Linked DNA regions of Homo sapiens. Changing the gene in region 2 together with the main gene of any one other region gives a genetic interaction. Each region holds a gene or a part of one and is shown on either strand. Other genes may lie near its edges. The genes, in order: TMED10, RAB1A, EIPR1 and SEC23IP.

Evidence for each region.
Region 1: changes in RAB1A (region 2) and TMED10 are lethal when combined (synthetic lethality), as found in Homo sapiens cells (one study listed by BioGRID).
Region 3: changes in RAB1A (region 2) and EIPR1 are lethal when combined (synthetic lethality), as found in Homo sapiens cells (one study listed by BioGRID).
Region 4: changes in RAB1A (region 2) and SEC23IP are lethal when combined (synthetic lethality), as found in Homo sapiens cells (2 studies listed by BioGRID, with this or other methods).

What each region holds. Positions count from the first base shown.
Region 1 is NC_000014.9:75,173,613-75,181,453, forward strand, and holds the start of TMED10 (transmembrane emp24 domain-containing protein 10 precursor), read right to left. Parts: upstream 3,001-7,841; 5' UTR 2,968-3,000; coding exon 2,743-2,967; intron 1-2,742. UniProt on the Homo sapiens protein: Cargo receptor involved in protein vesicular trafficking and quality control in the endoplasmic reticulum (ER) and Golgi.
Region 2 is NC_000002.12:65,127,092-65,134,433, forward strand, and holds the start of RAB1A (ras-related protein Rab-1A), read right to left. Parts: upstream 3,016-7,342; 5' UTR 2,825-3,015; coding exon 2,802-2,824; intron 1-2,801. UniProt on the Homo sapiens protein: The small GTPases Rab are key regulators of intracellular membrane trafficking, from the formation of transport vesicles to their fusion with membranes.
Region 3 is NC_000002.12:3,367,796-3,374,818, forward strand, and holds part of EIPR1 (EARP and GARP complex-interacting protein 1), read right to left. Parts: intron 1-7,023. UniProt on the Homo sapiens protein: Acts as a component of endosomal retrieval machinery that is involved in protein transport from early endosomes to either recycling endosomes or the trans-Golgi network.
Region 4 is NC_000010.11:119,916,730-119,923,752, reverse strand, and holds part of SEC23IP (SEC23-interacting protein), read right to left. Parts: intron 5,918-7,023; coding exon 5,709-5,917; intron 5,361-5,708; coding exon 5,242-5,360; intron 4,310-5,241; coding exon 4,157-4,309; intron 2,865-4,156; coding exon 2,769-2,864; intron 1-2,768. UniProt on the Homo sapiens protein: Plays a role in the organization of endoplasmic reticulum exit sites. Specifically binds to phosphatidylinositol 3-phosphate (PI(3)P), phosphatidylinositol 4-phosphate (PI(4)P) and phosphatidylinositol 5-phosphate (PI(5)P).

The DNA.
Region 1 (7,841 bases), on a different chromosome or scaffold from region 2:
CCCTTGTGGTTCCATTAAGCTGGTTAGTAGCAAAAGAACAGAGCAGACACAGGAGAGCAACTGAGTGATAGTAAAGTGCTAGGGTGTGTGCACAAAGTCCTGCTGGTTTTTGTTTTGCTTTGTTTTGTTTTGTTTTGAGACCGAGTCTTGTTCTGTTGCCCAGGCTGGAGTGCAGTGGCACGGTGTCAGCTCACTGCAGCCACTGCCTCCCAGGTTCTAGTGATTCTCCTGCCTCAGCCTCCCGGGTAGCTGGGATTACAGGCACACGCCACCATGCCCAGCTAATTTTTGTATTTTTAGTAGAGACTGGATTTTAGCATGTTGCTGAGGCTGGTCTTGAACTCCTGACCTCAGGTGATCCACCCGCCTCGGCCTCCCAAAGAGTTAGGGTTACAGGCATGACCCACCAAGCCCGGCCTAAAGTCCTGCTGTTGAGGTGCCTTCAGCAGCCCTAAATTCAATGTAATTCCCATAAGGCCATGCTAAACTACAGTTCCTGTTATTTATAGAGTACTTACTAGAAGCAAGGTAACATGCTTGGCATTCTAGAAAAGATGAACCTGAAAATAGTTCCTACCCTGAGGATACTAACAGTCTAGTAAGTAGGTCAAGGCATAAACAAAAACAGTTCAGAAAATAAGTGAGTTCAGGGTACTGTCCAGGGTGGCTCCATGTAGAATGCAAAGTGGGAAGTGACCACACGTATAGCTCAGAAACAGATCATGAAGAGCACAACAAAGCATGTTGAGAAATTTAAACTATCAATAAGCAATAGTGAGCCACTGAAGGGCTTTAAAATATAAGAACAAATCAGACAGCAACACGAGATGAGAGCAAGGTCTCTTTCATTGCTGAAATTCCCTGAGTCCATGAACATCCTCTGAAGAGTTGGAAGCATGATCTCCCACCCCGGAAACACTATATCTAAGCTTCTAAAATCATGCCATCACTATTTTCCTGGGTAGAGAGTTTGATACCCAAACAGAATAATAAAATGATGGGTCACAGATTAATTGCCCTGAAAATAGTTTGTCTCTCCCAAATAAAGTAGAAATAAATTACATGTATTACCACACTACTGGGTTCCACTACTTTAACATAAGTTATGGTCTTATTATATCTGAAACCCTTTTAAAAAGTAAAAACGAGGCCAGGCGCGGTGGCTTACGGCTGTAATCCCAGCACTTTGGGAGGCCGAGGCGGGCAGATCACGAGGTCAAGAGATCAAGACCATCCTGGCCAACATGGTGAACCGTCATCTCTACTAAAATACAAAAATTAGCTGGGTGTGGTGGCTGGCGCCTGTAGTCCTAGCTACTCGGAAGGCTGAGGCAGGAGAATTGCTTGAAACCGGGAGGCAGAGGCTGCAGTGAGCCGAGATCGCGCCACAGCACTCCAGCCTGGACGACAGAGCAAGACTCCGTCTCAAAAAAAAAAAAAAAAAAAAAAAAAGTAAAAATGTTTCTATTTAGTATAACAAAAGCCCCATTGTGTTACAAAGAAAAAAAAAGACACTTTGCTTATTGTGAATGAATAAAATTACCTAAAATGCAACCAAATACTGACAGATATCAAATTATATTAATGTCTCAAAGACCAGGCCAGGCTACTCTTAGCTACAAAACAGAATCAAACTGGTATTATGGCAGTAGTTGTCACCATCCAAGAGCATAGTTGGTATTTACATAAAAGAGCCAAGTCCAGATTCTGGCATACCAAAGAAAAAGGACTAGAGACTGAGACCATTTTGTAACCAATAATCGACTTTAATCAACTACAGAAATTACAAATTTAAAACAAGGAAGGAATAAGGTTGCAGCGCTTTTCCCTCAACATACTTAACTACCAAACTAAGTAAGAATCTATTCCATCGCAAGGACAGAAAACCAAACACCGCATGTTCTCACTCATAGGTGGGAATTGAACAATGAGAACACTTGGACACAGGGTGGGGAACATCACACACCGGGGCCTGTCGTGGGGTGGGGGGAGGTGGGAGGGATAGCATTAGGAGACATACCTAATGTAAATGACGAGTTAATGGGTGCAGCACACCAACACGGCACATGTATACATATGTAACAAACCTGAAAGTTGTGCGCATGTACCCTAGAACTTAAAGTATAATAATAATTTTGAAAAAAAAAAAAGAATCTATTCCATCTGTGACACTTACTAGTTTATCCTACCTCTGAGTCTCAGTTTCCTCATTTGTAAAATGGGGCTAACAGTACCTACCTACTTCATAGGGTAGTGCATGAACCAAATGGTAATATATGCAAAGTAGCACAGTAACTGACACAGCAGATGCTCAATAAATAACATTTTATTAATCACGGTTAGCTCTGTCTCCTTTACTTTCCTGCAGGTATCGCGGTATCTTATGATGCCAATCCGTATAAATATTCAACACCCCAACATTTATTTGGAGAACCAAATTACGGTTCAATGTATCTGAGACCAAAACTGGTATAGGACGTTGACAACCGCCCCAGCTCAGGTGTCACCACATCCGCCAAAGCCTCGCAGCCCTTCTTGGGGTTCCCAGGCGTTGGTGACCCGCCCCGCCCCGCGACAGGCAACCAGCGGGGTGAGGGGGCGGGCTCCACCGCACGTCCTTTGCGCTCCCGGGAGGCCAGAACAACTCCCAGGCCTCCGCCGGCCCGACTCCCCCGAACCCGAGCCTCCCCTCGCCTAAGCCTGCCGTCTTCCCTCCCGGCCCCACGTCGCCCAATGCCGCACCTTGAGGTGGCTGCGCAGGCCGCCAGCGCCCCCAGACTGGTCGGAGATCTCGTACGCGCCAGTCACTAGCAGGTCCTTGTGAATCTCCTCACGGAGGCACTTGCGAGAGTTAATGGGCAGATGGAAGGAGATGGCAAGGACCAATCTGGGGCCGAGCAGGAACAAAAGCAGCAACGCTAACGGAAAAGGGCCGCGCCGGGCTGGTGGGCCAGACAAACCAGACATGGTGCTGGAGACTCGTTCACCACCGAAGGCCTCAACCGCGCCGGAACCGGGGGGACCCACGTGACTCACCTCTGACCTTCTGATGCCGTCCGCGCCATTTTGGAGACTGGCATGTAGAGAAAGACTCTATAGCGAATCTTTTGAAAAGGGAAGAAAGGATAGGTACCATGTCAAAACCGCAAGTTTAAGCAGTTAAAGAAGCTTTAATAGAATACTATTGCAACAGTTTTATTTTTGTTGAAGTTAGTGACTACTGAGTCGGCCATGGCAAGTATGGGCAGCCCTGGAAGTAATTCTCCTTTAATTTCCGAAAGATGTACCCACGAGTTTAAAGGCGAGTGACACCATAGCAACCAAGCCCCAATAGGAAACAGCCACAAGGCCCTTCGCTGGGCCCGCCCACCGGCCGCCTAGGCGCGAGGGCGGGGAATGAGGCTGTGTCTCCGGGGATGGGGCGGTTTGCAGGCACTCCCAAGCGCCTTTGACACCTTGATGACACCTGGGGCACTGAGACACTAGAGAGGAAAATTTCGAGGAAAGATTTCAACTTGGCTATTAGACAGTGTGGACCTTAGAGAAGAAGTTTTAGGGGTCACCTGATGAATGTGTGCCGGGCAGACATCCGGTTCATGTCCCATAGCAGGGTATTTGGGCTGGAGTAATTGTCTGGCTAACTGAATGTACATGGTATTATTATTATTATTATTATTATTATTATTATTATTATTTTAGCAAACATTGAATGTGTTCTAAGCTATATTCAAAATAAATTTGAATTTGGTATTTAAATTGAATAAAACAACATGTTTTGGTCCAGTCTCAGATGAACATAATTAAGGGGTTAGCAGATAAGCGTTGTCAGGGAAAGTGCGTATGTGTGTGTTTTAAGTTCACAAACACTTTAGGGATCAAATTAACTATTAACATTTGCAAATAGACAAGCAAATTGACACGGTAATAATTCATGCATTCATTCAATGGAGTACCTACTGTGTGCCAGACATTATGCTATGCATGTATGTCAACACGTTTATTGATTTAACAAACTATTACTGGGATACTAGCAAATATTCAGAGCTGAAGAATATATTAAAATAAACGGCCAGGCGCGGTGGCTCACACCTGTAATCCCAGCACTTTGGGAGGCTGAGGCGGGTGGATCACGAGGTCAGGAGTTCAAGACCAGCCTGGCCAAGATGGTGAAACCCCGTCTCTACTAAAAATACAAAAAAATTAGCTGGGCTTGGTGGCGGGCGCCTGTAATCCCAGCCACTCAGGAGGCTGAGGCAGAGAATTGCTTGAACCCGGGAGATGGAGGTTGCAGTGAGCTGAGATGGCGCCACTGCACTCCAGCCTGGGCGACGGAGTGAGACTTGTCTCAGAAAAGAAAGAAGGAAAGAAAGAAAATGGAATTGCTCCTTGGCCTTTTGGCTAACATCAAGTGTAGAAAATAAACGTGGAAGACACAATAGCCCATGTTGGGAATCATTACCTACTTTGATTAACGTTTATTGAGCATCTTCAGAAATATCCAGAAGATGGACTGTCTGCCCTTAGTAATGTACATGATTGGTGTTTTTTTTTTTTAAACTTAGTCCATTTAGTTATTTTCCTAGAAATGAAATCCCACAGACAAAACAAGAACAAACAAAGGAGCTGTAAAGCATTTAAAATTTTGACAAATGCCATACAATAATTATTTTATGAGGTGTCCACTTAGGAGCATTTAGTTGGATTGTTGTATCACTGATCTAAGATAAGATTGGTAGTCCACACAGTACATCCTGATAATTTGCATTGGCCTTTTCCCTGCCAATGCAGGGAATCAGTATAAGCAGTTATCTAATTCATTGTCTACTTGCATTCCTGAGGCTCTGCTGACCAATAGCAAGAGATCTCAACCCATGAAAAAACTGTGTATGTGTTTCCTTTAAATTTCCATCTTACATTTACATAATAGATAATGCAATTTAAAATATTTTCACATATCATAATGATCTCCTCTGACATTTTCAAAAACCCTGTGAAATAGTCTGGACAATCTGTTCATTTTACAGATGAGGAAACCGAGGTTCTGAGAGGCCAAATAATTATACTGTTAAAGAAAAAATACTTCATGACATTTGTTAAAGAACTGTAAAGCAGGCCAGAGGCGGTGGCTCACACCTGTACTCCTAGCACTTTGGGAGGCCAAGGCGGGCGGATAACTTGAGGTCAGGGGTTCGAAACCAGCCTGGCCAACATAATGAAATCTTATCTCTACTAAAAATACAAAAAATTAGCCGGGCATGGTGGTGGATACCTGTAATCCCAGCTACTTGGGAGGCTGAGACAGGAGAATTGCTTGAACCCAGGAGGTGGAGGTTGCAGTGAGCCAAGATCACACCATTGCCCTCCAGCCTGGACGACAGAGCGAGACTCCTTCTCAAAAAAAAAAAAAAAATTGTAAAGCAAATCTTTATTCAAGGGGGACTGCCAAGATAGGTAATACAAGGGCCTATGACAATGGGGTTTTGTAGTAGGAAGGAGAGATCGGGCTCAATTCCAAATACAAGGAAAAGTAGGGATTTACAGCCAAAAATCAGGGTCAGTGGATGGAAAATTACTAAAAGGAAATATTGGGAGTAAGGGGAGATTCTGGCTAAACTAACTTAGCAGGATTCTTCCTAAAATTGGACAATGCAGAGTCATGGAAGTCCAAAAGTCAGAGCCTATTGAGAAGACAGATCAGAACAGCGTGGGTAAAGTTTGGTCAAGGAGAGAATCTTTGTCAGTACCCCAAACCTCATAAGCTTAAAAGTGACAAAAGCAGTCTAGGGGCCTGAGCTATCCTCAGGAAGATGCTATTATTTCTTATTTTAAAGATGAAGAAACTCAGATGCACAGCAGTTACTTTTCTGTGTCACAGCTCTCAAGTCCTTTCTTTTCTTTTTTGAGATGGAGTCTGGCTCTGTTGCCCAGGCTAGAGCGCAGTGGTGCGATCTCAGCTCACCACAACCTGCCCCTCCTGGGTTCAAGTGATTCTCCTGCCTCAGCCTCCTGAGTAGCTGGGATTATAGGCGCGCACCACCATGCCCGGCTAATTTTTGTATTTTTAGAAGAGACAGGGTTTCACCATGTTGGTCAGGCTGGTCTTGAACATCCTGACCTTGCGATCTGCCCACCTCAGCCCCCAAAGTGCTGGGATTACAGGTGTGAGCCACTGCGCCCGGCTTCCAGTCCTTTCTTGTCCTGTAGTCTTACTTATCCCCATCCTCCAACACCTCCTGTCTTTCTTCCCTCCTTTATAATTTTCCCCTTAGCACTCATTACTATCAAATAAAGCATACATTTTACTTACTTATTGTGTTTATTAGTCTGTCTCCCTAACTAGAATGTCTGTTTTGTGAGGGCAGGGATTTTTATCTATTTTTTCACTGTTTTATCTTCTGAACCTAAAACAGTGCCTAGCACTTAGGTACAATAAATAATGGTACAATGAATTTAAGACTGGTACCTTAGAAAGCGCAACCACAAATTTCTCCCATTATTCTTTAGCTGTTTTCACATAAATTTGTTTAATCCATAATGTATCTAAAGCATAGGTACAGTTTCAGTGTCACCAACATGTCTATCTTTTCTTAAAAAAAATGGAAAATACACTCTTGTTTCTATATAAGGACACAGAAAAACAAACAAACAAAAACAATTCTCCTCTGTATGCTGTGGAATGGAACCAAGACTTTTAAGCCTGCACCTGTGTTAAAGAAGTTACCGGCCGGGCATCGTGGCTCAAGCCTATAATCCCAGCACTTTGGGAGGCTGAGGCAGGCGGATCATGAGGTCAGGAGGAGATGGAGACCATCCTGGCCAACATGGTGAAACCCCGTCTCTACTAAAATACAAAAAATTAGCCCAGCGTGGTGACACGTGCCTGTAGTCCTAGCTACTTGGGAGGCTGAGGCAGGGGAATTGCTTGAACCTGGGAGGTGGAGGTTGCAGTGAGCTGAGATTGCGCCATGGCACTCCAGCCTGGCGAAAGAGCGAGACTCATCTCAAGAAAAAAAAAAAAAAGAAGTTACCATTGGGCCAGACGCGGTGGCTCACGCCTATAATCCCAACATTTTGGGTGGCTGAGGCAGGCAGATCACTTGAGGTCAGGAGTTCGAGACCAGCCTGGCCAACATGGTGAAATCCCATCTCAGCTAGAAATACAAAAATTGGCTGGGTGTGGTGGCTCACGCCTGCATCCCAGCCACTTGGGAGGCTGTGGCACGAGATTCGCTTGAACGCAGGAGGCAGAGGTTACAGTGAGCTGAGATTGCGCCACTGCACTCCAGCCTGGGCGACAGAGCGAGACTCCAACTCAAAAAAAAAAAAAAAAAAGATACCGTTTTACATCTGCATGGTAGAAAGGCCTCATTTGACTTGGAGAGCAAATGGAAAGTGTCCCATAACTACAGTAAATGCTTCTCTCTGGCCAGCAGTCTTCTGCCGTCCTGTCATCCTGAAACTTCCCCAGCCAAATCCACCTAAGATTCCTGAGCCACTGGAGCCTCTGGAGGTGAAGAAATATCATGAAGACACCCTCTGCCAATCTATCCCTAAGCCATAGGTTTCTCAAATTTTCCTTTGTGTAAGAGGGGGCATGTTTAAAATACACCTCACCCCAGATGGTGAATCAGAAGCTCTTACTAAAAATTTGCATTCGGGCTGGGCACAGTGGCTCACGCTTATAATCCCAGCACTTTGGGAGGCTGAGGCAGGCAGATTGCTTGAGTCCAGGAGTTCCAGACCAGCCTGGGTGACATGGCAAAACCCCATCTCTACAAAAGATACCAATAATTAGCTGGACATAGTGGTGTATGCCTGTAGTCGCAGCTACTCTGGAGGCT
Region 2 (7,342 bases):
CCCATGTATTTGATCCCAGAAAAAATATAAAAACTGTTTCTGGGTTTGATCCCTTTGAGGTCATTAGTCTTCAAAAGAAAGGATGATTTGACACCGTATTTACTTATTAATTACTGTCCTTGTCATTTATGAGCCATTCCTCCTTCTTCTCCCCCTTGAAAATTCCTAGTCACTCCCTCTGTTCCTCCAAATCTAATTGCTGATAAATCCCTTTCAGGTCTCTCTTCTATAAAGTCTTCCAAAACCCAGATAGCCAACCACAACCCACCATCCCCCTGAAATCTTGTTGCTCTCATCCATGCCACACATCTGGAATTTGCTATATCTACTGGTATTTGACATGTATAAAATCTATTTCTGCCGGGCGCGGTGGCTCACGCCTGTAATCCCAACACTTTGGGAAGCTGAGGCGGGCGGATCACTTCGGGAGTTTGAGACCAGCCTGACCAACATGGAGAAACCCCGTCTCTACCAAAAATACAAAATTAGCCGGGAGTGGTGGCACATGCCTGTAATCCCAACTTCTCGGGAATCTGAGGCAGGAGAATCACTTGAACCCAGGAGGCGGAGGTGGCGGTGAGAGGAGATTTGCGCCATTGCACTCCAGCCTGGGCAACAAGATTGAAACTCCGTCTCAAAACAATAAATAATTTTTTTTTTGAGACGGAGTCTTGCTCTGTCGTCCAGGCTGGAGTGCAGTGGCCAGATCTTGGTTCACTGCAAGCTCCACCTCCCGGGATCACGCCATTCTCCTGCCTCAGCCTCTCGAGTAGCTGGGACTACAGGTGCCCACCACCACGCCCGGCTAATTTTTTTGCATTTTTAGTAGAGACGGGGTTTCACCGTGTTACCGAGGATGGTCTCGATCTCCTGACCTCGGGATCCGCCCGCCTCGGCCTCCCAAAGTGCTGGGATTACTGAGGTGAGCCACCGCGCCTGGCCTATATCTAAACTTCTTAAGCGCAAGGATTATATTCCTAAATCCTGGTACTAATAGAATGCCTTTCATGAAAATGATGCATACCACCTGAAGAATGCTCACACGGTTTTTCAAATTCTTTTATATACATTTGAATTTCACCACTACCCTGACAGGAATAATGACTCCAATTATCCTATTTTACAAAAGGGAAAAAAAATTCAGAGGCTGAGTAACTTGTCAAAGTTCTCAACTAATCTTGAAGATTTATTTACACTAATAAACATATATATAGCAAATTCAGAAAATTTCCTGAACAGTAGAGGTCTATAAACCTCGATAAAGCAGTAAATCCATGTTCTTTATTGTTACCAAGAAAACTACTAAATTAAGAACCTCAAGTTCACCTCCGTTCAACTGTGCAAAACCAACTTTGTCCTTGGAGCCCTTGAAAAAAAATTTTTTTTAAACTGTCAACACAGCAAATGTCACTACAAGAACACTACCCTCAACTTCTAAAACATGAAATTCTAATAAAATACTACGGTTTCTGTTTAGTGCAAAAGATTTCAGCTTCAAGCCACACTATTACAAAACTTGTAAGCATTTTGCAAGAGCCATGTGACACACATATGACAGTCAGCTAAACTGGTGGGTGGACCTTTTAGGGGAAAATGTCTAGCAGTAATTGACCAAACCAGCAAATAAACTCAACTTTTACAACAAATACTGATGTTCCCCCATCCCTCAAAGGCCTTTGACACTGAAAAGGAATACCAATTCGGTCTCTTCCAATTATTCATTACTTTACATGCATGTAAACTGTAGAGGAAATTTTTAAAGGGCCATTGAGGAGAGCCCAACAAACTCTACCCAAGGGAAGTGAACACCAGTTCCCAGGAAAGGTGCCAGGTGTGTCACATCTGCTGTGGTGACTTCTTGAGTAAGCAAGAAAAAGAAATGCATTAACTTTTCATGACACGTCATGGAACCTCATTCCCTATCTGCAAGCATCCAAGCAGGTAATCCAAAACCTACATACAGATCTATCATAGGTCCCGTTCGTTTCTCTTTCAACTTGACAGCAAGCTTCCTTTAATCTGCGAGTATCAAAAAGACATTTCTTGGCTTTAGTTTTTTTTTTTTCCCTTGACCCACAGAAGACAAAATGACTTAGGTGTCCTCTTTAAAAAAAAAAAAAACAAAATTCTCACAAATGCCCAGGTTTTTATAGGAGGGCAATGGACCCGGCGAGCTCTTAAACAACTCCTCCAAGACACAACTCAAAAAGAGAACTAATAAATGTTCAGTTGCTTCTCACCATCTACTCATTCCCCTCAATCCCACGCAGTCCCGAAAAGCATCCATATTACCTGAAACCTGGCGGGGAGGATGGAAGGAGAGAGAGCCAACAAGCTCAGGATTTACAAGTAAAGCTGGTTTCTACCCCGAAGATCCTGACAGCTCCGCAGAGTGCGGGCGCAGGGTCTGACAGTGCCCTCTAGAAGGGCTCTCCCACCCCATCCCCTCCCCTTAGAGACAAGTCCTCCTTCAAAAGTCACTGCCTCCGAGAGAAGATACCCCTTCACACCGCCCCAGGCCCCTCGGCAGGCTTCCTCAGCACCCGCCCCGCAGTCAGGCCCTCTAACCTGACCCGGTCCAGGCCCGGGCGGCTCACCCCTCCGGCCCGACCCCTCCCCCGCGCGGCCGCCCCTCCGCGTCAGACAATGGGGCCCGACTCCCGGCCGCCAGCCTCTCCTGACCCATCACCCTCGCCTCACCCCAGCCGATGCCCCGACTTCTGCCCCAACCCTCCTCGACCCCTTTAAGATCCCCCAAGCTGGCCCACGGACCCAGCCGACCGGTGCTCTCCTGAACTCACTATTCGGGATTCATGCTGGACATGTCACTGCAGCTGCCGCCGCCGCCACCGCCGCCCTTGCTGCCGCAGCCGCCGCCCTGACTCTCCGCGCCACGGGTAATCGAAAGAAAGGAATGAGATAGGCTGTTCCGGGAGAGCAAACGTCTTCCCCTACTCCGTCCCCTAGAACACAATCAGCAGCCGCCGCCACTCAGCTATCGCTTCCACCCAAAATGGCCGCCGGCGAACCAGGAAATAGGGAAGCCTTAGACCGAGGGGCCTTTACACGGCCCAGAGGGCGGCCGCACCGCCTGGCATGCCGGGAAAGGGAGTCGCGAGCGCGGCTACGCGAGCTGAGGACAGACAGTGCGACGCAAGGCCAGGACTCAGCTTCCCGCCAAGCGCCGCGCCTCTGGGGCATGCGTACCTGAAGGGTTGTCGCCCGCCCCATTCCCCACTCCCTCACCTCCCCACCCTCGGCCCCTCCCTGCTCCCCTCCCCTCTGACTCGCTGGCTAGGACTTCGCTCGGACTCCCCCTGGCGGATTGGCTAAGGCCGAGCTGCCCTAGTGATGTCATCAGTGAGACGTGGCAGCCGGGCGAGTCAGCGCCCCACGGGGGAGGGGGCGGAGAGGGGCGGAGGGTGGTGCCGGCGGCCGACGGAGGCTGGGGGTCGGGGGAGGCAAGGGACCGGGGGGAGTGGTCAAACCGGAGGGACTGCCGGGGGTGCGGGGGCGGGGAGGGGGCCGGGGTACGAGCGTGTCGGCTCCTGCCTCCGTTGCGGCTGTTGCTGACCTGACCAGCTTGAGGCTTGCGCCACCCTGGTGGCGCTGGTTGGGGGCTGGTAGGAGGACGTCCGCTCTAAGAACAGAAGGGAAGTCAAGGGGCTCCCTGGACGGCACGGAGCGGTTCTTCTCGTCACTCACCCATCCCCACCTGGGTTCGGTCATCGTCCATTGTTGGCCCCGCGCACTACCATTTTCTTCTTAGATTTCTTCCCATTCTTACTGTGCCCCGCTCTTAACTCGTCAGCCTGGCTATTGCAGTAGTCTCCAAATGGACTCTACCTCTCTCTCTCCTCTCCGCCCCAGCCCATTTGCACACACAGTCGGATGTATCTTTCTGAGACAGCACCTGCATCGTGACCCCACAACCTTCAATGGCTCCACATCCCATGGATGGGAGGGACACAGCCCAGAGCCAGCCTAAAATCCAATTCCTACCTTCGTCCCGGCCTTCAGGTTGAATTGTAATGTATTATCTTTTAGTTGCTACTAACCCTGAGCCATTCTGCAAGACTGGAAAATAATAAGCAATAAAAATAGGCAATTCATCACTATATAGTGCCTACAATTTCTGGGAGTAATATTAACTCATTTTTAAAAAACCTATGGCCTTAACAGCTCTCTTTAATCAGCTCAGGAATTTAAATCTCCGCTAAACTTTAACACATTATCTTGAGTTATTTAATTACAAAGGGCATAGTGTAATACATTGTCCAAAGTTTATCTTCCAACTTCTAAGAACTAAGAAAATTGTCTCCTGAGACTTACTGCAGAATCACTTTAAATTCCTACAACGCCAAAATATAGAAAGAAGGCACTTATTTCTACCCATACACTAATTACACCCCTTAGCCCTCAAATTCTGCCATGGGCCTTAGTTGATGAACTTATCAAAAGTTACCCGAGTTTGGTTTCTGAAATGAACATGTTGGTTTCTGAAATGAACACGGTCACCACCCCAGGAATACCCTGAATGGTTCAGTAATAGGCACCAAAAAGTGTTCGTTACCCTGGACTCTAAAGCCCATTAAAAAAAAAAAAAGCTTATTTTGATTTCAAATAAAAACTCAGAAAACTGGCCAGGCTCGGTGGCTCATGCCTGTAATCTCAGGAATTTGAGAGGCCAAAACGGACAGATCACGAGGTCAGGAATTCAAGACCAGCCTGGCCAACATGGTGAAACACTGTCTCTACTAAAAATACAAAAATTAGCCAGGCATGGTGGCGCGTGCCTGTAATCCCAGCTACTCGGGAGGCTGAGGCAGGAAAATTGCTTGAACCCGGGAGGCGGAGGCTACAGTGGGCCGAGAGGCCACTGCACTCCAGCCTGGGCGACAGAGCAAGATTCTGTCTTGAGGGGAGAAAAAAAATCTCAGAAAACTGTGACCTGAGTCACTAGTAAAGGCACACACACACACACACACACACACACACCCCCAAAAAACCCTCAGAAAACTGTCCAGAACTCGTCCTCAGCCAAAAATACAATCTGTCCTCCCCTGGGAAGTATACTCCCAAACTTCCTTTAATTAACTATTTTCTTTCCCAACAAAGAATTACCCCCTGCCAGGCGCAGTGGCTCACGCCTGTAATCCCAACACTTTGGGAGGCCAAGGCGGGCAGATTATGAGGTCAGGAGATCGAGACCATCCTGGCCAACATGGTGAAACCCCGTCTCTGCTAAAAATACAAAAATTAGCTGGGCGTGGTGGCGTGTGGCACGTGAGATTACAGAATCTCAGCTACTCGGGAGGCTGAGGCAGGAGAATGGCTTGAACCAGGGAGTCAGAGGTTGTAGTGAGCCGAGATCGCGCCACTGCACTCCAGCCTGGCAACAGAGCGAGACTCAGTCTCAACAACAACCACCAAAAAAAAAAAAATTACCTCCTAGTAGCTTTTAATCTAAGTGACAGGATAGCTGTAAGCGTTGAATAAACACAATGTAAAGCATATAGTACAATGGCTTTGGGACCCTTGGTAAATGTTAATTACTTTTCTCTGTAGGAGAGCAAAAAAATGACTTCCCTCCACCCTGCTAGGTTCCTTGGCTAGTTTATGAACTAAATTAACCTAAGACAGATTAACAGGAGAAAATCATATTTGATTAAGTACATATGCATGGGAGTTCCTCAAAATAAGAGACTCCAAGAAGGGTCTGATGATTGAAGCATCCTGAGCTACAGAAAAGAATACGGCTTGGTGGCCGGGTGCAGTAGCTCACGCCTCTAATCCCAGCACTTTGGGAGGCCAAGGCGGGTGGATCACGAGGTCAGGACATCAAGATCATCCTGGCTAACACGGTGAAACCCAGTCTCTACTAAAAATGCAAAAACAAAATTACCTGGGCGTGGTGGCGGCTGCCTGTAGTCCCAGCTACTCGGGAGGCTGAGACAGAAGAATGGCGTGAATCCGGGAGGCGGAGCTTGCAGTCAGCTGAGATGGCACCACTGCACTCCAGCCTGGGCTACAGAGCGAGAGTCCATCTCAAAAAAAAAAAAGAATAGGGCTTGGTGCCGGGCGCGGTGGCTTACGGCTTACGGCTGTGATCCCAGCTCTTTGAGAAGCCAAGGTGGGTGGATCACTAGAGGTCAAGAGTTCGAGACCAGCCTGGCCAACCTGGCGAAACCCTGTCTCTACTAAAAACACAAAAAATTGGGCAGGCACAGTGGCTCACGCCTGTAATCCCAGCACTTTGGGAGGCCAAGGCAGGTGGATCATTTGAGGAGTTCAAGACCAGCCTGACCAATATGGTGAAAACCCGTCTCTACTAAAAATACAAAAATCAGCTGGGCATGGTGGCACATACCTGTGATCCCAGCTGCTCGGGAGGCTGAGGCAGGAGAATCGCTTGAACCTGGGAGGCGGAGATTGCAGTGAGCCGAAACTGTGCCACAGCACTCCAGCCTGGGCAACAGAGCGAGACTCAATCTCAAAAAAAAAAAAATTGAAAAAATTAGCCAGGCATGGTGGCGGGTACCTGTAATCCTAGCTACTCAGGTAGCTGAGGCAGGAGAATATCTTCAACCCGGGAGGTAGAGGTTGCAGTAAACTGAGATCACACCACTGTACTCCAGCCTAGGTGACAGAGCAAGACTCCATCTCAAAAAAAAAAACAAAACTGGGGCTTGGGGCCTTCGGAGAGGTAATGATAAGCTACAGGAGGGCAAGAGGGGAAATGCATGGTAAAGAAAGATTGTCCTGCCATGCAGATAAAAAGTCTCTCAGGTAATAAAAGTTATCTTGAGGCAGCCCTCTCTCTGATATAGATACGTTACTAATGTAGATTTCCTTTGTAGACATAAACTTATTTTACAAAAGGACAGCTTTTCAGAGCTACTCCTGTGTCTACAGTTTCTTAGAATAACCAGCTCAAAATATGCCACCAAAGAAGAATATTTTAGGAGAGCATATTCTGGTCCCCCAGAGTGATATTTGAGGTGGTATGTCCTGGTCCCCAACATCTACTTCTCTCAGCTTCTCTGAAAGTCTTAAGTGTACCTGCTGTGTACCAAGGACAGAAAGCCTCATAGCTTAGCTTCCGTGTTGTAGAATATTATGCGAAGAGGTCAGAGGCAGCTTAGCCTGGGAATGGTAGGTGGGTGTTTTCTACCCCCACTGAAATTTATGTGCAATTACATTAAGACTTCCTTTCCAAATTTAAAGTGGCTAAAAATTAAACTTTTTAAAAGTTTTGCTGACTCAAACTTTAATATATATATTTTCGTGTGTGTTTTTTTGTTGTTGTTGTTGTTGTTGTTTTGAGATGGAGTCTCACTCT
Region 3 (7,023 bases), about 62 Mb from region 2:
CCCAGCACTTTGGGAGGCCAAGGCAGACGGATCACAAGGTCAGGAGATCGAGACCATCCTGGCTAACACCCTGAAACCCCCTCTCTAAAAATACAAAAAATTAGCCAGGCGCGGTGGCAGGCGCCTGTAGACCCAGCTACTCAGGAGGCTGAGGCAGGAGAATGGCGTGAACCCGGGAGGCGGAGCTTGCAGTGAGTTGAGATCGCGCCACTGCACTCCAGCCCGGGTGACAGAGCGACTCTGTCTCAAAAAAAGAAAAAAGAAAAGAAAATTTAATCTCCATCTTCCATTTCAAAAGTCTTTCCTCACTTGGCAACAGGCAGACCCTGAAGCGCTGGCCTGGTCCATCTGTCCCTCAGACTGATGGCACAAAAAGCCAAAAGCCCACAGTCTCTTTGCCCCTCTGACCTGACTGCACTGATCTCAGGACTCCAGGAGAACCTCCCAGAACAGAAAGGAGGCACGCATATCCTTGTGTGGCTTACAACCTGCCCTGCTTGCTTCCTGGTTTTGGTGGTAAACCGAAGGGAAAGCAACTTGAAACAAGCCCAAGTCATCATTGTCACCCACCTTCCCACCCCGACCGTCCTTTCTGGTCTGGCCCAGCTCACTTGGCAGCAGTGGGCTCAAATAGGAGTTGGCAGATGTAGCCCTCACTCTGCCCACACCTGCAGGCCCTGCTTGCCGCTGGTCCATCTTAGTCACATGCCTGCCCCCAGACCTACACATGGGCAGAGCCACCACTGCCTAGAGGTTCACTGTTCCCATCACAAGGCAAGTTTGCCACATGGAGATTTGACCCACACAACAAAGAAGATCTATTAATGTCAAAAGTTCAAAGAAACATGATTGCAGGAGAGAAGTCATACTGTTTGTATGCACTTTGAGATAGTCACAAAGAACTACTGTTGTGTTAACTGACAAGTATTCATTAAACTCATATTGAGAAAATGGATTTCTACTGAGCAGTAAACTAAAAGTGTGCAAAAGCATTTCAAATATCATTTGAAATTTCATGCATTTCAAATATAATTATAAAAAAATCCAGAATCATTACCATGAATTTGCTCAGCATTTTGCGATCTTAACGACCCTCCGTGTTGGTCTTTTATTTGCAGTTGCAGTACTGCCCTTTATCTTTCAAGTGTCATTACCTTCACTCAGCGGTCAACGATCAGATCTCTATCCTTTCATGTAAAGTGTTCTCCATGGGATTTGAATGTCACTGACAAACAAACAAAAAAAAACACTATCCTTTTCAGTTTTCTTGTTTACTGCAATGATGGTTCTTCAAACTTAAGAAAGTCTTGGTCCATGATACTATCCGATAAAATCCAAGTAGCAAAAGTCAGCTACTTCTTTTAAGATAAAGAAGAAAATCCAATAATATATTTGACTACCTTAGAGAATCAATTTCATTCATTTTTCAAACCTCAGAAAATAATATTTCAGGGAGGAGCCAAGATGGCCGACTAGGAACAGCTCCGGTCTAGAGCTCCCAGCGTGAGCAACGCAGAAGACGGGTGATTTCTGCATTTCCATATGAGGTACCGGGTTCATCTCACTAGGGAGTGCCAGACAGTGGGCGCAGGTCAGTGGGTGCAGCGAACCGTGCGCAAGCCGAAGCAGGGCGAGGCATTGCCTCACTCGGGAAGTGCAAGGGGTCAGGGAGTTCCCTTTCCTGGTCAAGGAAAGGGGTGACAGACAACACCTGGAAAATTGAGCCACTCCCACCCAAATACTGCGCTTTTCCGACGGGCTTAGGAAACAGCGCACCAGGAGATTATATCCCACACCTGGCTCGGAGGGTCCTATGCCCACGGAGTCTCGCTGATTGCTAGCACAGCAGTCTGAGATCAAACTGCAAGGTGGCAGCGAGGCTGGGGGAGGGGCGCCCGCCATTGCCCAGGATTGCTTAGGTAAACAAAGCAGCCGGGAAGCTCGAACTGGGTGGAGCGCACCACAGCTCAAGGAGGCCTGCCTGCCTCTGTAGGCTCCACCTCTGGGGGCAGGGCACAGACAAACAAAAAGACAGCAGTAACCTCTGCAGACTTAAATGTCCCTGTCTGACAGCTTTGAAGAGAGCAGTGGTTCTCCCAGCACGCAGCTGGAGATCTGAGAACGGGCAGACTGCCTCCTCAAGTGGGTCCTTGACCCCTGACCCCCGAGCAGCCTAACTGGGAGGCACCCCCCCCGTAGGGGCAGACTGACACCTCACACGGCCGGGTACTCCTCTGAGACAAAACTTCCAGAGGAACGATCATACAGCAACATTCGCGGATCACGAAAATCCGCGGTTCTGCAGACACCGCTGCTGATACCCAGGCAAACAGGGTCTGGAGTGGACCTCTAGCAAACTCCAACAGACCTGCAGCTGAGGGTCCTGTCTGTTAGAAGGAAAACTAACAAACAGAAAGGACATCCAACCAAAAACCCATCTGTACATCATCATCATCAAAGACCAAAAGTAGATAAAACCACAAAGATGGGGAAAAAACAGAGCAGAAAAACTGGAAACTCTAAAAAGCAGAGCGCTTCTCCTCCTCCAAAGGAACGCAGTCCCTCACCAGCAACGGAACAAAGCTGGACGGAGAATGACTTTGACGAGTTGAGAGAAGAAGGCTTCAGACGATCAAACTACTCCGAGCTACAGGAGGAAATTCAAACCAAAGGCAAAGAAGTTGAAAACTTTGAAAAAAATTTAGACGAATGTATAACTAGAATAACCAATACAGAGAAGTGCTTAAAGGAGCTGATGGAGCTGAAAGCCAAGGCTCGAGAACTATGTGAAGAATGCAGAAGCCTCAGGAGCCGATGCGATCAACTGGAAGAAAGGGTATCAGTGATGGAAGATGAAATGAATGAAATGAAGCGAGAAGGGAAGTTTAGAGAAAAAAGAATAAAAAGAAATGAACAAAGCCTCCAAGAAATATGGGACTATGTGAAAAGACCAAATCTGCACCTGATTGGTGTACCTGAAAGTGATGGGGAGAATGGAACCAAGTTGGAAAACACTCTGCAGGATATTATCCAGGAGAACTTCCCCAATCTAGCAAGGCAAGCCAACATTCAGATTCAGGAAATACAGAGAATGCCACAAAGATACTCCTCGAGAAGAGCAACTCCAAGACACATAATTGTCAGATTCACCAAAGTTGAAATGAAGGAAAAAATGTTAAGCGCAGCCAGAGAGAAAGGTCGGGTTACCCACAAAGGGAAGCCCATCAGACTAACAGCGGATCTCTCGGCAGAAACTCTACAAGCCAGGAGAGAGTAGGGGCCAATATTCAACATTCTTAAAGAAAATAATTTTCAACCCAGAATTTCATATCCAGCCAAATTAAGCTTCATAAGTGAAGGAGAAATAAAATACTTTACAGACAAGCAAATGCTGAGAGGTTTTGCCACCACCAGGCCTGCCCTAAAAGAGCTCCTGAAGGAAGCACTAAACATGGAAAGGCATAACCGTACCAGCCGCTGCAAACTCATGCCAAAATGTAAAGACCATCGACATTAGGAAGAAACTGCATCAACTAACAAGCAAAATAACCAGCTAACAGCATGACAGGATCAAATTCACACATAATATTAACCTTAAATGTAAATGCACTAAATGCTCCAATTAAAAGACACAGACTGGCAAATTGGATAAAGAGTCAAGACCCATCAGTGTGCTGTATTCAGGAAGCCCATCTCACGTGCAGAGACACACATAGGCTCAAAATAAAAGGATGGAGGAAGATCTACCAAGCAAATGGAAAACAAAAAAAGGCAGGGGTTGCAATCCTAGTCTCTGATAAAACACACTTTAAACCAACAAAGATCAAAAGAGACAAAGAAGCCCATTACTTAAGGGTAAAGGGATCAATTCAACAACAAGAGCTAACTATCCTAAATATATATGCACCCAATACAGGAGCACCCAGATTCATAAAGTAAGTCCTGAGTGACCTACAAAGAGACTTAGACTCCCACACAATAATAATGGGAGACTTTAACACCCCACTGTCAACATTAGACAGATCAACGACACAGAAAGTTAAAAAGGATACCCAGGAATTGAACTCAGCTCTGCACCAAGCGGACCTAATAGATATCTACAGAACTCCCCACCCCAAATCAACAGAATATACATTTTTTTCAGCACCACGCCACACCTATTCCAAAATTGACCACATAGTTGGAAGTAAAGCTCTCCTCAGCAAATGTAAAAGAACAGAAATTATAACAAACTATCTCTCAGACAACAGTGCAATCAAACTAGAACTCAGGATTAAGAAACTCATTCAAAACCGCTCAACTACATGGAAACTGAACAACCTGCTCCTGAATGACTACTGGGTACATAATGAAATGAAGGCAGAAATAAAGATGTTCTTTGAAACCAATGAGAACAAAGACACAACATACCAGAATCTCTGGGACACATTCAAAGCAGTGTGTAGAGGGAAATTTATAGCACTAAATGCCCACAAGAGAAAGCAGGAAAGATCCAAAATTGACACCTAACATCACAATTAAAAGAACTAGAAAAGCAAGAGCAAACACATTCAAAAGCTAGCAGAAGGCAAGAAATAACTAAAATCAGAGCAGAACTGAAGGAAATAGAGACACAAAAAACCCTTCAAAAAATTAATGAATCCAGGAGCTGGTTTTTTGAAAGGATCAACAAAATTGATAGACCGCTAGCAAGACTAATAAAGAAAAAAAGAGAAGAATCAAATAGACGCAATAAAAAATGACGAAGGGGATATCACCACCAATCCCACAGAAATACAAACTACCATCAGAGAATACTACCAACACCTCTACGCAAATAAACTAGAAAATCTAGAAGAAATGGATAAATTCCTCAACACATACACTCTCCCAAGACTAAACCAGGAAGAAGTTGAATCTCTGAATAGACCAATAATAGGATCTGAAATTGTGGCAATAATCAATAGCTTACCAACCAAAAAGAGTCCAGGACCAGATGGATTCACAGCCGAATTCTACCAGAGGTATAAGGAGGAACTGGTACCATTCCTTCTGAAACTATTCCAATCAATAGAAAAAGAGGGAATCCTCCCTAACTCATTTTATTAGGCCAGCATCATCCTGATACCAAAGCCGGGCAGAGACACAACCAAAAAAGAGAATTTTAGACCAATATCCTTGATGAACATTGATGCAAAAATCCTCAATAAAATACTGGCAAACTGAATCCAGCAGCACATCAAAAAGCTTATCCACCATGATCAAGCGGGCTTCATCCCTGGGATACAAGGCTGGTTCAATCTACGCAAATCAATAAATGTAATCCAGCATATAAACAGAACCAAAGACAAAAACCATATGATTATCTCAATAGATGCAGAAAAGGCCTTTGACAAAATTCAACAACGCTTCATGCTAAAAACTCTCAATAAATTAGGTATTGATGGGAAGTATCTCAAAATAATAAGAGCTATCTATGACAAACCCACAGCCAATATCATACTGAATGGGCAAAAACTGGAAGCATTCCCTTTGAAAACTGGCACAAGACAGGGATGCCCTCTCTCACCACTCCTATTCAACATAGTGTTGGAAGTTCTGGCCAGGGCAATTAGGCAGAAGGAAATAAAGGCTATTCGATTAGGAAAAGAGGAAGTCAAATTGTCCCTGTTTGCAGACGACATGATTGTATATCTAGAAAACCCCATTGTCTCAGCCCAAAATCTCCTTAAGCTGATAAGCAACTTCAGCAAAGTCTCAGGATACAAAATCAATGTACAAAAATCACAAGCATTCTTATACACCAATAACAGACAAACAGAGAGCCAAATCATAAGTGAACTCCCATTCACAATTGCTTCAAAGAGAATAAAATACCTAGGAATCCAACTTGCAAGGCACATGAAGGACCTCTTCAAGGAGAACTACAAACCACTGCTCAATGAAATAGAAGAGAATACAAACAAATGGAAGAACATTCCATGCTCATGGGTAGGAAGAATCAATATCGTGAAAATGGCCATACTGCCCAAGGTAATTTATAGATTCAATGCCATCCCCATCAAGCTACCAATGACTTTCTTCACAGAATTAGAAAAAACTACTTTAAAGTTCATATGGAACCAAAAAAGAGCCCTCATCGCCAAGTCAATCCTAAGCCAAAAGAACAAAGCTGGAGGCATCACGCTACCTGACTTCAAACTATACTACAAGGCTACAGTAACCAAAACAGCATGTTACTGGTACCAAAACAGAGATACAGATCAATGGAACAGAACAGAGCCCTCAGAAATAATGCCGCATATCTACAACTATCTGATCTTTGACAAACCTGACAAAAACAAGCAATGGGGAAAGGATTCCCTATTTAATAAATGGTGCTGGGAAAACTGGCTAGCCATATGTAGAAAGCTGAAACTGGATCCCTTCCTTACACCTTATACAAAAATTAATTCAAGATGGAATAAAGACTTAAACGTTAGACCTAAAACCATAAGAACCCTAGAAGAAAACCTAGGCATTACCATTCAGGACATAGGCATGGGCAAGGACTTCATGTCTAAAACACCAAAAGCAATGCCAACAAAAGCCAAAATTGACAAATGGGATCTCATTAAACTAAAGAGCTTCTGTACAGCAAAAGAAACTACCAACAGAGTGAACAGGCAACCTACAAAATGGGAGAAAATTTTCACAACCTGCTCATCTGACAAAGGGCTAATATCCAGAATCTACAATGAACTCAAACAAATTTACAAGAAAAAAACAAAAAACCCCATCAAAAAGTGGGCAAAGGATATGAGCAGACACTTCTCAAAAGAAGACATTTATGCAGCCAAAAGACACATGAAAAAATGCTCATCATCACTGGCCATCAGAGAAATGCAAATCAAAACCACAATGAGATACCATCTCACACCAGTTAGAATGGCAATCATTAAAAAGTCAGGAAACAACAGGTGCTGGAGAGGATGTGGAGAAATAGGAACACTTTTACACTGTTGGTGGGACTGTAAACTAGTTCAACCATTGTGGAAGTCAGTG
Region 4 (7,023 bases), on a different chromosome or scaffold from region 2:
ACATGGTGAAACCCCATCTCTACTAAAAATACAAAAATTAGCTGGGTGTGGTGGCAGACGCCTATAATCCCAGCTAGTTGGGAGGCTGAAGCAGGAGAATGGCTTGAACCTGGGAGGCAGAGGTTGCAGTGAGCCGAGATCGTGCCACTGCACTCCAGCCTGGGAGACAAAGCAAGACTCCCTTTCAAAAAAAAAAAAACGGAACCAACATATACATACTTGACTATCAATATCCCCAACACTAGAAACAATTCCTTTTCAAATGAAAATTACTAAGATGCTTTAAAAAGAAAAAAAAAGCACACAGTCACAAATATCACAAATATTTGATCTCCTTGTTATAAAATAATCGCTAATTTTGGTCCCATTATTTCAGTTACAGTAAATCAACAGGACACACCATATTACTTTTGTATTGATCTAGTAGCACCTTGTTATCTGTAAGAAGTGTAAAGCAATCAATGGCAACTCAGCTGAGAAAGTTTCATGGTTCATCCAAAGGCAATTACCTTTTAATTTAAAAAATAAGATCACTCTATAGATTTTTGCTCATTTCAAAACATTCTTATAATGCCATAATTTATATATCTAAGCAACTGCAGTCCATAAACCAGTCTCCTTCTAGAAATTCTTCAAGAACTATAGAATCCTTTTCTACTTTTTTCCCTTTCATTACAGAATAAATTAAGAACATGGTGTAGGGCCTGAACACAAAGCTTCTCATTTCTTGTTTTTTTTGTTTTTTTTTTTATAGGCTTTTGCTTCACTGATGTATACACGGAGACAAGCATTTTTCTGTATGGAGCACGCAGCCTGTATACAGAAACAACACTGACATGCTTGTGTCCTAGTCTCAGTTTGACTATTGTGCTCATCAGAGACAAAAGCCTGGGGATCTACTCACAGGGTTGTTGTGAGGCTCAGGTGAGATGAAAAGCTCTTTGTAAATTGGAATTACAGAACGATTCAACACACAAGAAAAATGACATGAAAGATACCTCTTAACTGCCAAAACTAATAACCTTTCTCAGCACTTAATCAAATACTGCTTGTCTATGTCTAAAATGTCTTTTGAGTTGCTCCCTTCCTCTCCACCTCCTACCTTATACCCCTATCATCTCTCTTTCAGTCACTGTACAATTACAATTACTACTATGTAAGATTGCAGCCGCCTCCACTTCACGCCTTTCCAACTTCATCTGTGCACTGTGACCAAGCAAACTCTCCACAGTCCAAAAGTTAAAATTAAAATTTAGACTACACAGATGATTTGGTGCTAAATCATAACTTGTGATAGAATAAGCAGGTCAGCATTTTGTAATGTTTAAAAACACCATGACTTTCATGGCCATAAGAACATGTTTGAAAACCACTCCCTTACAAGAGAAAATCCAAGCCTCCACACCTGCCACCTGGGCCTTTGGAACCCTCTGCCCTTCCCAGTTTCCAGCTTCCCTGATGCTACAGGAAAACACATGCCAGATTCCAGAAGGCCATCTCCCCTGACCTTACCCCTCCTTCAAGCTCAAGCACCATCACCTTGGAGAAGTCTTCTCTCACCAACCCCATGCTTGTCTCAACAAGCCAGAACTGCCACCTCTCATCTGCCTCAGGACAGCACACACAGCACGCTATTATGGGGCTGGTATGTTGTCATTTGAGCTCAACGTGCTCCCCGCAACTAGACAGCACACTCTTGGTTAATCTCCGGCTCCCAAGAATTGAACACAGTGCCTGACTCAAAAGAGGTAGCTGCTATTCAATAAAATGCTGAGAAGACTCAATTCCTTAAGCTAACCATTAAAAAAAAAATCAGTCCTATGACTTTATAGTCATTTCCCATATAAAGAAATGATGTAGGTTAAGTTCCAAACAGGTAGTAAAATAATAGAACCATAGAAATTCAAAAGATGGAAGGATCATCAAAGAGCATGTTAATAACAATACAAATAAGACGGCCACCCTAAGAGTCATCTAATTTTTCTAATTAGAAAACCTCTGTAAAATTAATTTGATCAATAAATTAAAATTAATAAAACAAGTATATTTTCCAGTTGTTCTAGTTTTAAATGCTTTTTAGCTGTTGCCTTGTTTTGTATTGTTAACAATTTTTGCTGTTTAGTGTTTAAGACTTCAGTGTGTATGTTTTTCCTCATCTCTTTAGATGGTAAGGACTGGGAAGAAAGTGAGCTATTACTTGGTGCTAAGCTTTGCATGCATTATTTCATGCTTACTCCAATCCTGTAAGGAAGGTATTATTCCATTTTAGAAATGAAGAAAACAAAGGATCAGAAAAATTAAGAAAATCACTCATGATCAGAAGGCTGAGGCGGGAGGATAGCTTGAGCCCAGGAGTTTGAGACCAGCAGTGGGAAACACAGCAAGATCCCATCTCAAAATAAACAAATGAATAAAACCAAATACAAATTGCTCATTAATACGCAGTTAATGAGCAGTTGAGCTGAGAATTTATTTGTCAGAACTTAACCACTGTTTGCACCAGGAAAACCTTAAATATCCATTTTAAAACTGAAAGCCCTTCATCCTAGGAACTTAGTCCCAGGAAAACCAGGATGGTCACTTAGCCTAATGTGGACTTAAGCCCAACTCTGACTCCTAAGTCTGGGTTTCCATCAGCTCCATTACTGTGCCCTAGGTAGGGAGCAAACTAGCTTACCTAACCATAGTAGTATTAAAATTTTCTATAATATAAACGAGCTGGTCACACCATGAGTTTTAGTTTTTCTTGAGTCAGAGGTGAACTTTACCAGTTTGGCTGCTTTATGTTCTACAAAGTTAGCTATCTTCTTTCTGGGTCCAAGGGGTATCCCCATTTCCTTCAGGTCATCAACTGTACACATAAGCTTTAAAAGGAAACAGACAAGCACATTAATCAATCTAGTGATAGAAGAACTGAAATGAGAATATGAAAATTATAAAGAAACCACATCATCTAAAGCAATCTAAGAGCCACTCAACTTTTTACAAGTTAGTTATTTTGTATTTAAATCATGCATCAGTTTAGGCTATAAAATCTTAGGCTTCCACACCTAAATCATTCTATTAATTAACAGAAAATACACATATGGTATACAAAATTCCAAAGCTATAGTCAAGCATACGATGAAATATCTTCCTCCCACTGCTGTCCCAAACATAGAATTCTCCTCTCAGCGCAACTGTGGAAACTTGCTCTCTTTGAAGCGATGTCTTATGTATGCATAGCACTTACATGTTTTTCTCTGTGTGTGTGCTCTACTATGCACACAGTAATGAACTCTGCTCTCTTCATGTAAATGTACCTTAGAGACGGGTATCTCTGACACTGCATCATTCATTCAACAGCTGTAGGGTACTCCGTTATGCGGATGCACCATAAATGATTTCACTAGCACCCTACTCCTCAACACCAATGGTGTCTCTAATGTTTTGTTACCTTGCAAACACTGCTGTGAGTATCCTTGTAGATAATTCTTGTTTGAATATTTCTCTATAGGAAATATTCCTGGCAATGAAACTGATGAAGCAAAGGGTAATTTTTATATTCTTAAAGATATTGCCAAACTGCCTTCCAAAGAGTTTGTAATATTTTACAGTCTGACCAACAATATATAACAATGCCTAGTTCCCTTCACCCTGGCCACATAGCATATTTTCAAACTTCCTATTTTTTCAAACTGGTAAGTTAAAAAAAATCCCATTGTACTTTCAATTTCCATTTCTCTTATGAGTTTTCATATGCGAAGACACCATTTGTTATTTCCTTTTCTGTAAATCATGTTTATATTCTTTGCCTATTTACATATCACACTGATGTGATGGTCTTTCTGTAACTGATTTGTAGAAGCTTTGAAAATCAATGAAGTAAGCCCTCTGTCTATAATGTGTGTTGCAAATGTATCACTGGCCTTTAGATGTTGTTTATGGTGTCTACTGTTATACAATTTTTTTCTTTGATGGCTTCTGGATTTTGCATCATACTCAGAAAAGCCTTTCAGATTATAAAAAAATATTCTTCTGTGTTTTTCAATTTTTTAAAACATTTCAGTCTTTGTCTACTCTGGAGTGTATTTTGATACGAAAATGTTTATTCTTAATTTTCAATCTACACAAGAAAAACAATTTCAAACAAAATGAAGCAAACTATGATCAGTACCAGGGACTCCATATCAATCTTTTCCTTTTCAAAAGTGCTAAAATATTCAGAGAGGCTAAGTGCTTCCAGAGTTTCTTGCAAAGTTAGGACTTCTTTATTTTCAACAACAAGGTCATACGACTCATCCAAAGTCAGCTTTGGCTCTTCAGGCATCTTTAAAAAAAAAAGTATGAAAAACATTACAAGCTCAGAAAAACTCCCATATAATGACTGCTGATCTACGAAAACTCTCAAACAATTTTGCTTTACACAGAAATCATAATTTTAGGCACAGTACTTTGCCATTCAAAGTTTGAATATTCTGGCCAGGCCCAGTGGCTCACGCCTGTAATCCCAGCACTTTGGGAGGCTGAGGCAGGTGCATCACCTGAGGTCAGGAGTTGAAGACCAGCCTGGCCAACATGATGAAACCCTGTCTCTACTAAAAACACAAAAATTAGCTCAGCTTGGTGGCAGGCGCCTGTAATCCCAACTACTCGGGAGGCTGAGGCAGGAGAATCGCTTGAAACCGAAAGGCGGAGGTTGCAGTGAGCCGAGATCACACCATTGCACTCTAACCTGGGTGACAAAAGTGAAACTCCGCCTCAAAAAAAAAAAAAAATTGAATATTCTGAAAAGTATATAAATTTAATAAATCACTCAAGTCTCCATTTCCTATAATTTACATTTTTAAAAATCACAAACTTTCACATTTAAATTTATAACCCATAAAGAAGAAGAGTGAGAAACTCAAATAATGAGCTATATGATTCCATTCCATTTCTAAACCTCGGTGTACTTTAATATGTAAAACCAGTTTCAGGGCTGGACACGGAAGCTATTATATTTGGGCCTATAACTGTACTCTGAATTTGGGGATTCTCTGAAGAGTTATTGATGCCAGCACTTTGGGAAGCCAAGGCAGGAGGATCGCTTGAGGCCAGGAGGGAACTCAAGACTAGCCCAAGCAACCAATGAGGCTCAGTTAAAACAAACAAACAAACAAACAAACAAACAAAAGTTTCAAGAAACAGTTCAGACTTTTGAAAATTGTTCAGCTCCATAGACTCTAAATCGAAATGTTAATTGGCCACGTACAGACGTACCTGCTTTTCCTGAAAATGTAGCTGCTTCACAACTCCATTAGCAACAGCAAGAGGTCCAGGGCACTTTGATAAATTCAAATCTTTTTGATTAGACAGGATGTCAAACAATATTAAAGAACCTATGAAAAAGAAACATTTTGCCTTATAATGTAGTAGGTACTTTTATAACACTAATTCTTTTTTCACTGTCTATAGTCAAAAGTCATACAGAAGTTACATGTTATTCAAGACCTGATAATTAATTATTTTATCAAACAGCAGAATAAAGTAAAATACATAGCATTCCCTAGGTAATACTAGAGGTGAATATAGAAAAGGCAGAATCTAAACTCAGAGCATTCATTTCTACCTTTTCTGAAACTTAAAATCTGTAATTCTTAATTTTGCACTAACAATATCACCTACACTGAAAGCAGTTATGACTCAACAAAAATTGTATTTAAAATGTGAATATTTGACAGTTTTACCTAAACTGTGACCAGCAACAGAGACACCTCCTTTGAAGTCTGGGTTCCGACTCATAAAGAGTGCATGCAGATGGTTTATCTCCATTCCTACTTTTTCCACAATTGTCTGACAGTAGGTGGGGCTGTTATAAAATAAAATATCTAGCAAAGTTTCATTGGTAAAGTGACGAAATCGACCAATACTTGGCAAAGTGATTTTCTTAATATTCCTGTTTAAAAAGAAAAATACAGCACATTCAGTCAGCATCTACCTTAAATTTACAGATTTTTTTAAAGTTTAGATTTTTGACTCCTGAAAATACACTAAGAAAACCCCACAGACTATGAGTTGTTTCTGTAGATAGTCATTATAAATAAATCAAGATAGGCCAGATGCGGTGGCTCACACCTGTAATCCCAGCACTTTGGGAGGCTGAAGTGGGTGGATCACTTGAGGTCAGGAGTTCAAGACCAACCAGGCCAACATGGCGAAACCCCGTCTTTACTAAAAATACACAAATTAGCCGAGTGTGGTGGTGTACACCTGTAATCCCAGCTACTCAGGAGGGTGAGGCAGGAGAACTGCTTGAACCTGAAAGGCAGAGGTTGCAGTGAGCTGAGACTGCACCACTGCATTCCAGTCTGGGCGACAGAGCAAGATTCCACCTCAAAAAAAAAAAAAAAAATTTAAATCAAAAGTTAGCCACAAGTCATGGCACACACCTGTACACCCAGCTATTTGGGAGGTTGAGGCATGAGAATCGCTTGAACCCAGGAGGTGGAGGTTGCAGTGAGCCGAGATTGTGCCACCACACTCCAGCCTGGGTGACAGAGCGAGACTCCACATCAAAAAAAAAATTAAAAGTATAAATAAAGGTAAACCAAAAAAATTTGTGCTGCCACATGTGGTGGCTCATGCCTGTGATCCTAGCACTTTGAGAGGCTAGGGCAGGAGGACCGCTTGAGCCCGGGAGATCAAGACCAGCTTGAGCAACACAGTGAGACCCCATCTCTACAGAAAATTTAAAAATTAGCCAGGCATGGCGGCTTGCACCTATAGTCCCAGCTACTTGGGAGACTGAGGTGGGAGGATCACTTGAGCCCAGGAGGCCAAGTCTACAGTGAGCCATGATCATGCCAGCGCACTCCAGAGCCTGGGTGACAGTGAGATGCTGTCTCAAAAACAATTCAGTTTTTTTTTTAAAGTTATTTGTGCCTATAACTATACTATGAATTTTGGGATTCTCTGAAGAGTTAGTTGCTATATAAGTCATATGCAAAGATTTCTATTTTATTTTTAAAGAGGGAAGATTACTCTTCCATTTTTCTTCCAGTT